Linked DNA regions of Homo sapiens. The protein of the gene in region 1 interacts with the protein of each later gene in a pairwise test. Each region holds a gene or a part of one and is shown on either strand. Other genes may lie near its edges.

Evidence for each region. The genes of interacting proteins can lie anywhere in the genome.
Region 2: the proteins of ALOX5AP (region 1) and TMEM120B interact in binary tests that used the Homo sapiens proteins (3 or more experiments, as listed by UniProt).

What each region holds. Positions count from the first base shown.
Region 1 is NC_000013.11:30,744,613-30,749,866, forward strand, and holds part of ALOX5AP (arachidonate 5-lipoxygenase-activating protein), read left to right. Parts: exon of another isoform or gene 1-27; intron 28-2,012; exon of another isoform or gene 2,013-2,082; coding exon of another isoform or gene 2,083-2,132; intron 2,133-5,254. UniProt on the Homo sapiens protein: Required for leukotriene biosynthesis by ALOX5 (5-lipoxygenase). Anchors ALOX5 to the membrane. Binds arachidonic acid, and could play an essential role in the transfer of arachidonic acid to ALOX5.
Region 2 is NC_000012.12:121,743,587-121,748,210, reverse strand, and holds part of TMEM120B (transmembrane protein 120B), read right to left. Parts: intron 4,583-4,624; coding exon 4,464-4,582; intron 1-4,463. UniProt on the Homo sapiens protein: Necessary for efficient adipogenesis. Does not show ion channel activity.

The DNA.
Region 1 (5,254 bases):
TTTCTAACACGGGGGCTCCTTGAGCAACTAGAACAAGAACAGAAAGAATGGGGACATTAGCAGGTGCTTTCCCCCTCTCTCATTCTTTTCTTTGAATAAAAAGGTTGTTTGAAAACACCTGAGCGGCTCCTAAAGATGGGTGCAATCTATTCGGGATGCAAATCCGAATGAATGTTATTCAAATGCTCCTCTCTTCTTTATGCAGAGTGTATTTCAAGGCTCAGCCAGTGGCAGGCATGCTGGGGACTATGGACTACGGACTAGGGGCCTGTCACAGAGGAAGGCCTCATGCTAGAGAGCTAAGGGAGGAGCTGGCCTTCAGTTCCATCCCAGGAGCAACTTTGATGTTCCCAGAGATCCTTCCAAAGGGGGAGTCATGGTCACCCAAGAAAAATGTATTCAGAATGCCAAGAATGGTGCAAACTCAGGACAAAGATTCACACTGCAGGGTTGGAGTCCCTGGGCTTGCTGCTGGCACCATGGGAGGGAGGGTCCCCTTCAGGGGTACCGTTGGTTTCCTGTGAATTAAACTGGCTTCAAGGGATCTCGACTGAACAGGCCTATATCACACTCACTGATATACTCTCTCTTCAGTCCTTCTCCTCATCTAGGTATTTTTAATTGTTTCAGTGAGGTGTAGGCATGAGGGGATTGGAGGGGGCATCTCCTCCATTGCAGTTTTTCATTGGCTGCTTTGCTCCCTCAGCTCCGAAATCGCTGGGCCACTCTCGAACGCATTAGTACGGTAGTCACAGGTTGATTGCCTGGCCCCTTGCCCTCTGTGGGCATTTTCCCTTTCAGACAGCCCCTGAGTACTCACAGTGCTGCTACAGTGGGCCACCTAGATCTCCCTCTTTCTCCATGCTCCCACGTGCTCTGGGCTCCACTCCCTTCTCCCAAGCACTTCTGTCCAGGGCTATTCCAGCAGTCTGACCTCAAGGAAATCCTTTGCTAAACTGATTATAGAGAGGTTTCTATTTTAACATTTAGGTCTTCCATGTATTAATTCTCAGAATCAATTTAAGATGTTTAAAGGTGTGATTTAAGACATTTTAAAACCATTTGGAGGAGAGTACAGAAATTATGTCACTTGCTGTCAGCCTCTTTGCACCATCTGCAGAGAAAGATACTAGAGTCCCGCCTTGGACACATCCACATGCAAGAGGTGCAAAGAAGGTGTCTTTGATGAGGCAAGGTCAAAACTTCTCCCCAGACGAAATCCAAAGAAAGCATTCCTACTATGCTATATCAGTTTGGAAAGAAAAACTTCTGCCAGGTGACTGCATTCTCACTGGTCACATTGTGTTCCTATGGACTCCTCAGCTCAACCAATTTGGAGAAGTTATGGTGCAATTTCACCATATCTGGTTAGAAGTTAAGTTTCCAATTTGCTGGCAATGAAGAAGAAATGGAGCAGGCCAGGCTGTGTAGTTTCTGCCACGTGCCCCCGGGAGTGAACAGCTCTGTTTGTAAGAAGCCATGGTGCTTAGACCTGGGCTCGCTAGTTGCCAGCCTCCAAATTGCAGAAGTGCCCTTTGGTTGGTGGCTATGCTGTGTCACTTGGGAAGGTCGTTTGGAAGTTCCACAGTCGTTGTGGGGTGCCAGAGATTAAAAAGCGTAAGAGGAGAGTGGAAAGTGATTGTTGCTGCTTGGGCATCCCCACCGTGTGGGTGCTGCAGCCCAGCTCTCAAAACCCATGGGTCTGTACACTCAACCTCCATGAGAGGGAAGGAGAAGGATGAGGGAGGGGAGAGATAGCCATGGAAAGGTAGGAACTAAGCAGGCAGGGTGGAGAGTTTTCTGTAAGACAAAAACTGTCTGGACACTGCTGCGGTTCTGTTACAAAGACCACTTCCTCCCTGGGCCAGCAACATATCTGTGTGCCTGTCTGGGTTGTAAAAAGGGTCAAAGATCAATGCAGCAGGCAGCTACATGCTGGCAAAAGCCAGAGGCAGCTGGTCTGTTTGCCTGTGCCAGGAAACCACTGGGAATGGGGTTGTGTGTTATTCTAGGAGAAAGTCGTCCCAGCAGCAGCTTCTCCAGGGGCATCCAAGAGCACTGAAAAGGGTTGCAAGATGACCCATGAGGCTGCAGGAAGAAAAGAACATGCATTTAATCTTGCTATCTGAAAAGTAAGACATGAAGCTTTCCTCATTTTTAATATACACATGGACAGTAGTATGTGTATATAGTTTATATGCAAATATACTTGTTATAAGGTTGCATGCTCAAAATTTTTGGTTCATGGGGTGTGGGATCATAAATGTTTAGGGACCATGGCTATCAAGGAAAAACAGCATGAAGGATAAATGATACTGGTGGATTAAAAAGACAGATGCATGTATTTTTAGCATAAAACACAACTGCTGACTGATACAGATAGCTCAAGATTCTGGGGCAGCTGCTGAACAGATACACTAGCCAGTGTGGCTCATCGGCTCAGACTTGGCCTTAATTAATGGGCTGTCCCTCCACCCATCTCCCATGAGGGCAGAGCTGAGCCAGGGTTTGAGAGCTAAAAGGAATTGGACCTGGACTCTGTTCACGTGTATATTTTAATTCTAATTAATTCATTCTTTTGAAAGACAGAGTCACACTCTGTTGCCTAGGCTGGAGTGCAGTGGCACGATCTTGGCTCACTGCAACCTCGGCCTCCCAGGTTCAAGTTATTCTCCTGCTTCAGCCTCCTGAGTAGCTGGGATTATAGGCACATGCCCCCATGCCTGACTAATTTTTGTATTTTTAGTAGAGACGGGGTTTCACCATGTCAGGCTGGTCTTGAACTCCTGACCTCAGGTTATCCACCCGCCTTGGCCCCTCAAAGTGTTGGAATTACAGGTGTGAGCCACCGTGCCTGGCCTGTTCACATGTATAAAACACAGTTTAATGTCCTATTCCCAGCCAATGAGCATGGCTAGAGCAGCCTTGGTCAAAGTTTGGTTTTTGGAGAAAAATCCTTGTTAGCTGACCTAAGATTCCTCTTTGTGAGTGTAAGTAAGCACAGGTTGCAGAGAGGAGAAGGGTCTCTGGAGAGGTGTAATTTTCTAAATGGATTACAAGTTCATGGACTTTTAACAGGTGTTACAGGGGATAACAAGTTCTTTATAGACAGACTTTTGAGGACGTTTAAGGGTATTCTGATTCTTGGTTTTCTAAGAGGGGAATGTATTATTTAACTACAGACACCCCTACCGCCCACTTTTTGCAGAGTGTATCAAAACATGTTTTTGGAATACCACCCTCATGTCGCTTCTCCCTGCATCTCTTATCTCTTGGTGTCCATTCTAGACTCACTTTCTTTCTGTTTTTTATTTTTATTTTTTTTTGAGATGGAGCTTCACTCTGTCACCAGGCTGGAGTGCAGTGGTGCAATCTTGGCTGACTGCAACCTCTGCCTTCCGGGCTTAAGCAATTTTTGTGCCTCAGCCTCCTGAGTAGCTGGGATTACAGCATGCACCACCATGTCCGGCTAATTTTTGTATCTTTAGTAGAGACAGGGTTTCACTATGCTGGCCAGCCTGGTCTCAAACTCCTTACCTCAGGTGATCTGCCCGCCTCGGCCTCCCAGAGTGCTCAGATTACAGACGTGAGCCACTGGTGCCTGGCCTAGACTCACTTTCAAGTGGCATAGACTTGTAAAATTATTTAAAGGTGATAGGTCTACAATGATCCTGTCAATTAGTATTGACACTATTATTAATAAACTGTTATTAATTATATTTACTTACTTTAAATTAATCCAAACTAATTAACGGAACACTAAAGAGTTTCTATGTTTTATTCCCAGAGGTGGAGAAAAATGAAAGGGAATATAGCAACGAATTCTTTTCTCCATAAAAACATGAATAGTGCAGCACATCAAGTTGAACATACCACAGCAAATTGTTGCAAGATCTGCTGAGTAGCTCCTATTTAGACCTCAAGGAATGAGACTCAAAATGGGTTCATCAGTTCTGTTTTGCAGAAAAAATAGCGCAAAATTTCTCAAAAGAAAATCCAGAATAATAATAATTTGTCAATAGGAAAGACATTTCCACTGGGGGTTAAGAAGGAAGACATTGGAACAATGATAGCCACCACTTATTGAATGCTTACTGTGAGCCAGGTGGCACTTCACCTTGTTTCATTCTCACAACAGTCTAGGGAAGTAATTACTAATGTCTCCATCCACCTCTTGTAGATGAGCAAACTGAGGCTCATTGAGGCTAGGAAATGCACCCACACTCACATAGCCCATAAGAGGCAGCCATGGCATTGGGCCCAGACCATGTGAACTTCAAAGACTACACGAGCAGCCACTGGGCAGCTGTCATGGCTAAAGCCACTTGAATTCAGCCCAGCAGCAACCCCCTCTCCAGGAGGGGCACATAAGCTTGCAGCTTTGGGTAGAAGCTGCACTTGAAGTCCTGGATGGCGAGAGGGACTGGCTTGAGCCAGAGCCAGGAACAAGGCTCTGAGAATATTCTGGAAATCCACAGGAGGAACCCATTTTCTTACAGCTGGGAGAATTTCATTCAACTCCAGGCTGACCATGTTTTATTAGGAACGAAGGTGACTTGAACTAATAGTCAGGAATGGTTGAATACGGACCCAATGTCAAATCACTAGGCAGTTCACATTTCTAATGAGCAAATCCCTTAGACAATTAAGAATTTTTTTCCTTTTGCATAACCCAGACAAAATCGCTACTTAAAAACAAACCAAAGACCCGAAACATGAGAAAGAGAAGGAAGCAGGGGAAATCTTTGGTACTAATAAGTTTTTAAACAATAAGAGCACCAGATATTTTACCCCATCAGACACAGAATGTTATTCGAATAACCAAAAAAGGAATTTTTTCTCTAAGTTTCTTGAACTGGAAAATGAATCATATTTTCTCAGTCCTGAGGCTGCAATTTTGTGCCTCTAGTAACATATAAGAATAGATGTGATGCCAGTGCCCAGTAGCTGCTGCAATTGTTACTTGGGGACCTGTTTATTCACTAAGCACTTCACCCCAGTGATAAATTTGTAGGGGCCTCCTGCCCTTTGGAGCTCCTACCGTGTCCATTAGATCAGTGGAAATTCTGGGATTCAGAGCACTTTGCAAGGTCAGCAGGGGTCTGCTCTTTCTGTCCTGTTCCTGGTTTTTGGTTGTGCCTGGATTCCAGGGTAGGTTTCTCATCTGTTACCTTCATAGACTTCTCCAGAAAAGGATCTTTTGACCATCAGAGGACCACGAAGATTCCATTGGTGAGGCGCAGATAACCTGATC
Region 2 (4,624 bases), on another chromosome or scaffold:
CAGCCTCCCACCTTCTACCCCAGCCTCCCACCTTCTACCCCAGTGCCTCCCACCTTCTACCCCAGCCTCCCACCTTCTACCCCAGCCTCCCACCTTCTACCCCAGCCTCCCACCTTCTACCCCAGTGCCTCCCACCTTCTACCCCAGCCTCCCACCTTCTACCCCAGTGCCTCCCACCTTCTACCCCAGCCTCCCACCTTCTACCCCAGTGCCTCCCACCTTCTACCCCAGCCTCCCACCTTCTACCCCAGTGCCTCCCACCTTCTACCCCAGCCTCCCACCTTCTACCCCAGTGCCTCCCACCTTCTACCCCAGCCTCCCACCTTCTACCCCAGTGCCTCCCACCTTCTACCCCAGCCTCCCGCCTTCTACCCCAGCCTCCCGCCTTCTACCCCAGCCTCCCGCCTTCTACCCCAGCCTCCCGCCTTCTACCCCAGCCTCCCGCCTTCTACCCCAGCCTCCCGCCTTCTACCCCAGCCTCCCGCCTTCTACCCCAGCCTCCCGCCTTCTACCCCAGCCTCCCGCCTTCTACCCCAGCCTCCCGCCTTCTACCCCAGCCTCCCGCCTTCTACCCCAGCCTCCCGCCTTCTACCCCAGCCTCCCGCCTTCTACCCCAGCCTCCCGCCTTCTACCCCAGTGCCTCCCGCCTTCTACCCCAGCCTCCCGCCTTCTACCCCAGCCTCCCGCCTTCTACCCCAGCCTCCCGCCTTCTACCCCAGCCTCCCGCCTTCTACCCCAGCCTCCCGCCTTCTACCCCAGCCTCCCGCCTTCTACCCCAGCCTCCCGCCTTCTACCCCAGCCTCCCGCCTTCTACCCCAGCCTCCCGCCTTCTACCCCAGCCTCCCGCCTTCTACCCCAGCCTCCCGCCTTTTACCCCAGCCTCCCGCCTTCTACCCCAGTGCCTCCCGCCTTCTACCCCAGCCTCCCGCCTTCTACCCCAGCCTCCCACCTTCTACCCCAGTGCCTCTCGCAACCGCAGTTCCCCATCTCAACTCTCGGGGTTGGAGGAGTGATGCTGCCTCCCAGGTAGTCTTGTGACTTTCAGAAAGTCCTTAAACCTCTCTGCCTTATTTTCCATACCTGAAAAGCCGGGATAACCTCAAGCCTACCTCACAGACAATAGCCTGGTGAGGATTAAATGAGTAAGTACAGCATAGAGCATCTAGAATAATACTTGATAGTATGAGCTCAAGGGATAATTACTGACAATACTATTTTTCTTCTCATTTTTCTTTTCTTTTCTTTTTTTTTTTGAGACAGAGTCTTGCTCTGTCGCCCAGGCTGGAGTGCAGTGGCGCCATCTCGGCTCGCTGCAAGCTCCGCCTCCTGGGTTCACGCCATTCTCCTGCCTCAGCCTCCCAAGTAGCTGGGATTACAGGTGCCTGCCACCACGCCCAGCTAATTTTTTTTTTGTATTTTTAGAAGAGATGGGGTTTCACCATGTTAGCCAGGATGGTCTCGATCTCCTGACCTCATGATCTGCCTGCCTCGGCCTCCCAAAGTGTTGGGATTACCGGCGTGAGCCACCACGCCCGGCCTTCTTCTCATTTTTCTAAAGAAATAGCTAGCAGGCATGATGTTATAGTCCCAGCACATACGCCTATGATCCCAGCACTTTGGGAGGCCAGGGCAGGAGGATCACTTGAGGCCATGAGTTTGAGACCAGCCTGACTAACATAGCAAGACCCCGTCTCTATAAAAAATTAATTAAAGAAAACAACCAAGGCCGGGTGCAGTGGCTCAAGCCTGTAATCCCAATACGTTGGGAGGCTGAGGTGGGCCGATCACCTGAGGTTGGGAGTTCAAGACCAGCATGACCAATATGGAGAAACCCCGTCTCTACTAAAAATACAAAATTAGCTGGGCATGGTGGTGCATGCCTGTAATCCCAGCTACTCGGGAGGCTGAGGCAGGAGAATCGCTTGAACCCGGGAGGCAGAGGTTGCAGTGAGCCAAGATCGCACCATTGCACTCCAGCCTGGGCAACAAGAGCGAAACTCTGTCTCAAAAAAAAAAAAAAGTGGGGGGGCGGTTTAAGAAAACAACCAGGGGCTGGGTGTGGTGGCTCATGCCTGTAATCCCAGCACTTTGGGAAACTGAAGTGGGCAGATCACCTGAAGTCAGGAGTTCGAGACCAGCCTGGCCAAAATGGCAAAACCCTGTCTCTACTGAAAATATAAAAATCAGCTGGGTGTGGTGGCAGGCCCCTATAATCCCAGCTACTTGGGAGGCTGAGGCAGGAGAATCACTTGAACCCGGGAGGCAGAGGTTCAGTGAGCCAAGATAGCACCACTGCATTCCAGCCTGGGTGACAGAGCAAAACTCCATCTCAAAAACAACAACAACAATAACAAAAAACAACAACCAAGCATGGTGGTACATGCATGTAGTCCTAGTATTCATGAGGCTAAGGTGGGAGGATCGCTTGAGCCCAGGAGATCAAGGCTGTGGTGAGCCGTGATTGCGCCACTGCACTCCAGCCTGGGTGACAGAGCAAGACACTATCTCAAAAAAAGTAAGGCCAGGCATGGTGGCTCACACCTGTAATCTCAGCACTTTGGGAGGCCGAGGCAGGATGATCACTTAAGGTCAGGAATTTGAGACCAGCCTGGCCAACATGGTGAAACCCTGTCTCTAGTAAAAGTACAAAAATTAGCTGGGCGTGGTGGCGGGCACCTGTAATCCCAGCTACTCGGGAGGCTGAGACAGGAAGAATTGCTTGAACCCGGGAGGCAGAGGTTGCAGTGAGCCGAGATTGCACCACTGCACCCCAGCCTGGGCAACAGAGCGAGACTTCATCTCTGAATGAATGAATGAATGAATGAAAATAATTTTAAAAAATAGAAATAAAGGAATAACCTACAGATGACCAAGAGACAGACAAAAAGGCACCTGAAAGCATAAGCAGTCGACCAATCATGGTCTGTTATTCTTTGGTAACACGGAACTCTCAAAACCAGAAAACAAGTCAGCAGACACATCTCAGAATGACAGGGGTCCTTGGTCTAAGACCCTAACTCACGGGTCAACCTTCTAACCCAGCACTTCTCAACTGAGGACAGCTGGCAATGCCTGGAGAGATCTTGGTGGACACACCTGGGGCAGGAGTGCTACTGGCATCAGTGGGCAGAGGCCAGGGATGCTACTCACTATCCCACAGTGCACTGCACGGCCCCCACAAAGACCCATCAATAGTGCTGGGGTTCGCCATGTGCCCATCTGTGAAGCAATCACTGAGAATCTGAAGAAACTCTAGACTCTGAGCCCTGCCATTACCAAGATGTGTTTTTCCAAAGCCACATCTGGTGACGTGTTTGCACAGGGCCATCCACACTCTCTACCCCTTAGTTGCGGGCCTCCATTTCCAAAATGGCCAGCCACACTGAGAGCTATAATCAGGACCTTCCTCCAAAATTGTCCACAAGGAAAGAGTTGACCAGGAGTCCCAGATTCTAAAATGGAGGCCCAGCTAAGTGACCTGGGACAAGTCACTTGGAGCCTCAGTTTCCCTGCCTGACAATGGGGTCACGGCATCCACTGGGCCCCTTCACATACCAGGCAGGAGGGGACTTCCCAGACCTGGAGACCATGAGTGTCAGGAAATGAACACGATCCAGGCCTTGGGAACTGAACTAAGCTATGAGCTCAAGCACATCTCCACCAGGGATGGCAGCCTAGTGGCCACTACACCAGCAACCCCAGTGGGGAGGGCACCCCACACCCACAAAAGGACGCTGCCTGCTTACTTGTCCGGCAGGGCACCTTCCTATAACAGCACCCAACTTTCACCCGGGAAACTACTTATCTTCTTCTCCCATCACCCATGTGGCCATCCCTCCACCGCCCAGGGCCACAGACTTAGCACACGGCATGGCGCTGCCCAAGCAGCTTCTCAGTGATTGGTTCACAAATGGGCATTCAACCAATCCCAGCCAATGAGGACTGAACCCAGAATGTCGGCTGAAGTACTGGGAACGAGAAACTCTCGGCCAGGCACAGTGGCTCATGCCTGTAATCACAGCTACTCAGGAGGCTGAGGCAGGAGAATCGCTTGAACCCAGGAGACAGAGGTTGCAGTGAGCCGAAATCATGCCATGGCACTCCAGCCTGGGCAACAGAGTGAAAGACTCCATTTCAAGAAAAAAAAAAAAAAAAAAAGAGAGACACTCTCCTTCAGCCAGGGTGGCACAGCCGGCAGGAAGCAAGGCTGGAGAATATAAGCCTGGCACTGCTGGTGAAGGGGACAGTCACCCTGAGAGTGACACCAATCCAGAGGAAGGCAGAATTTAGAGGGAAAAATACATGCCCCAAAACACCCTTTGACTCCTGGATCCAGTGATGCCTGAAGCAACTCCCAGTCCTGTCTTTTTCCACTGAGATTTCCATTCTCTGCTTCAGCCTGTTTTGAGTTGGACTTCTGTCCCTCAGAACCAGGGCAGCCCCCGGGCTACAGCTGCACCTACCTCTGGAGTGTAAGCTTCAAGTCCTTGAGGTGCTTCTTCTGCTTACTGATGGAACTGCTACACAGCGTCTGCAGCGCAGCCAGCTCCTCCAGCTTCTGCTTGTAGATCCTGTGCGTCTCCTGAAGAACAGGGGACCCGGGGGAGGGTGTGTGGGAGAATAT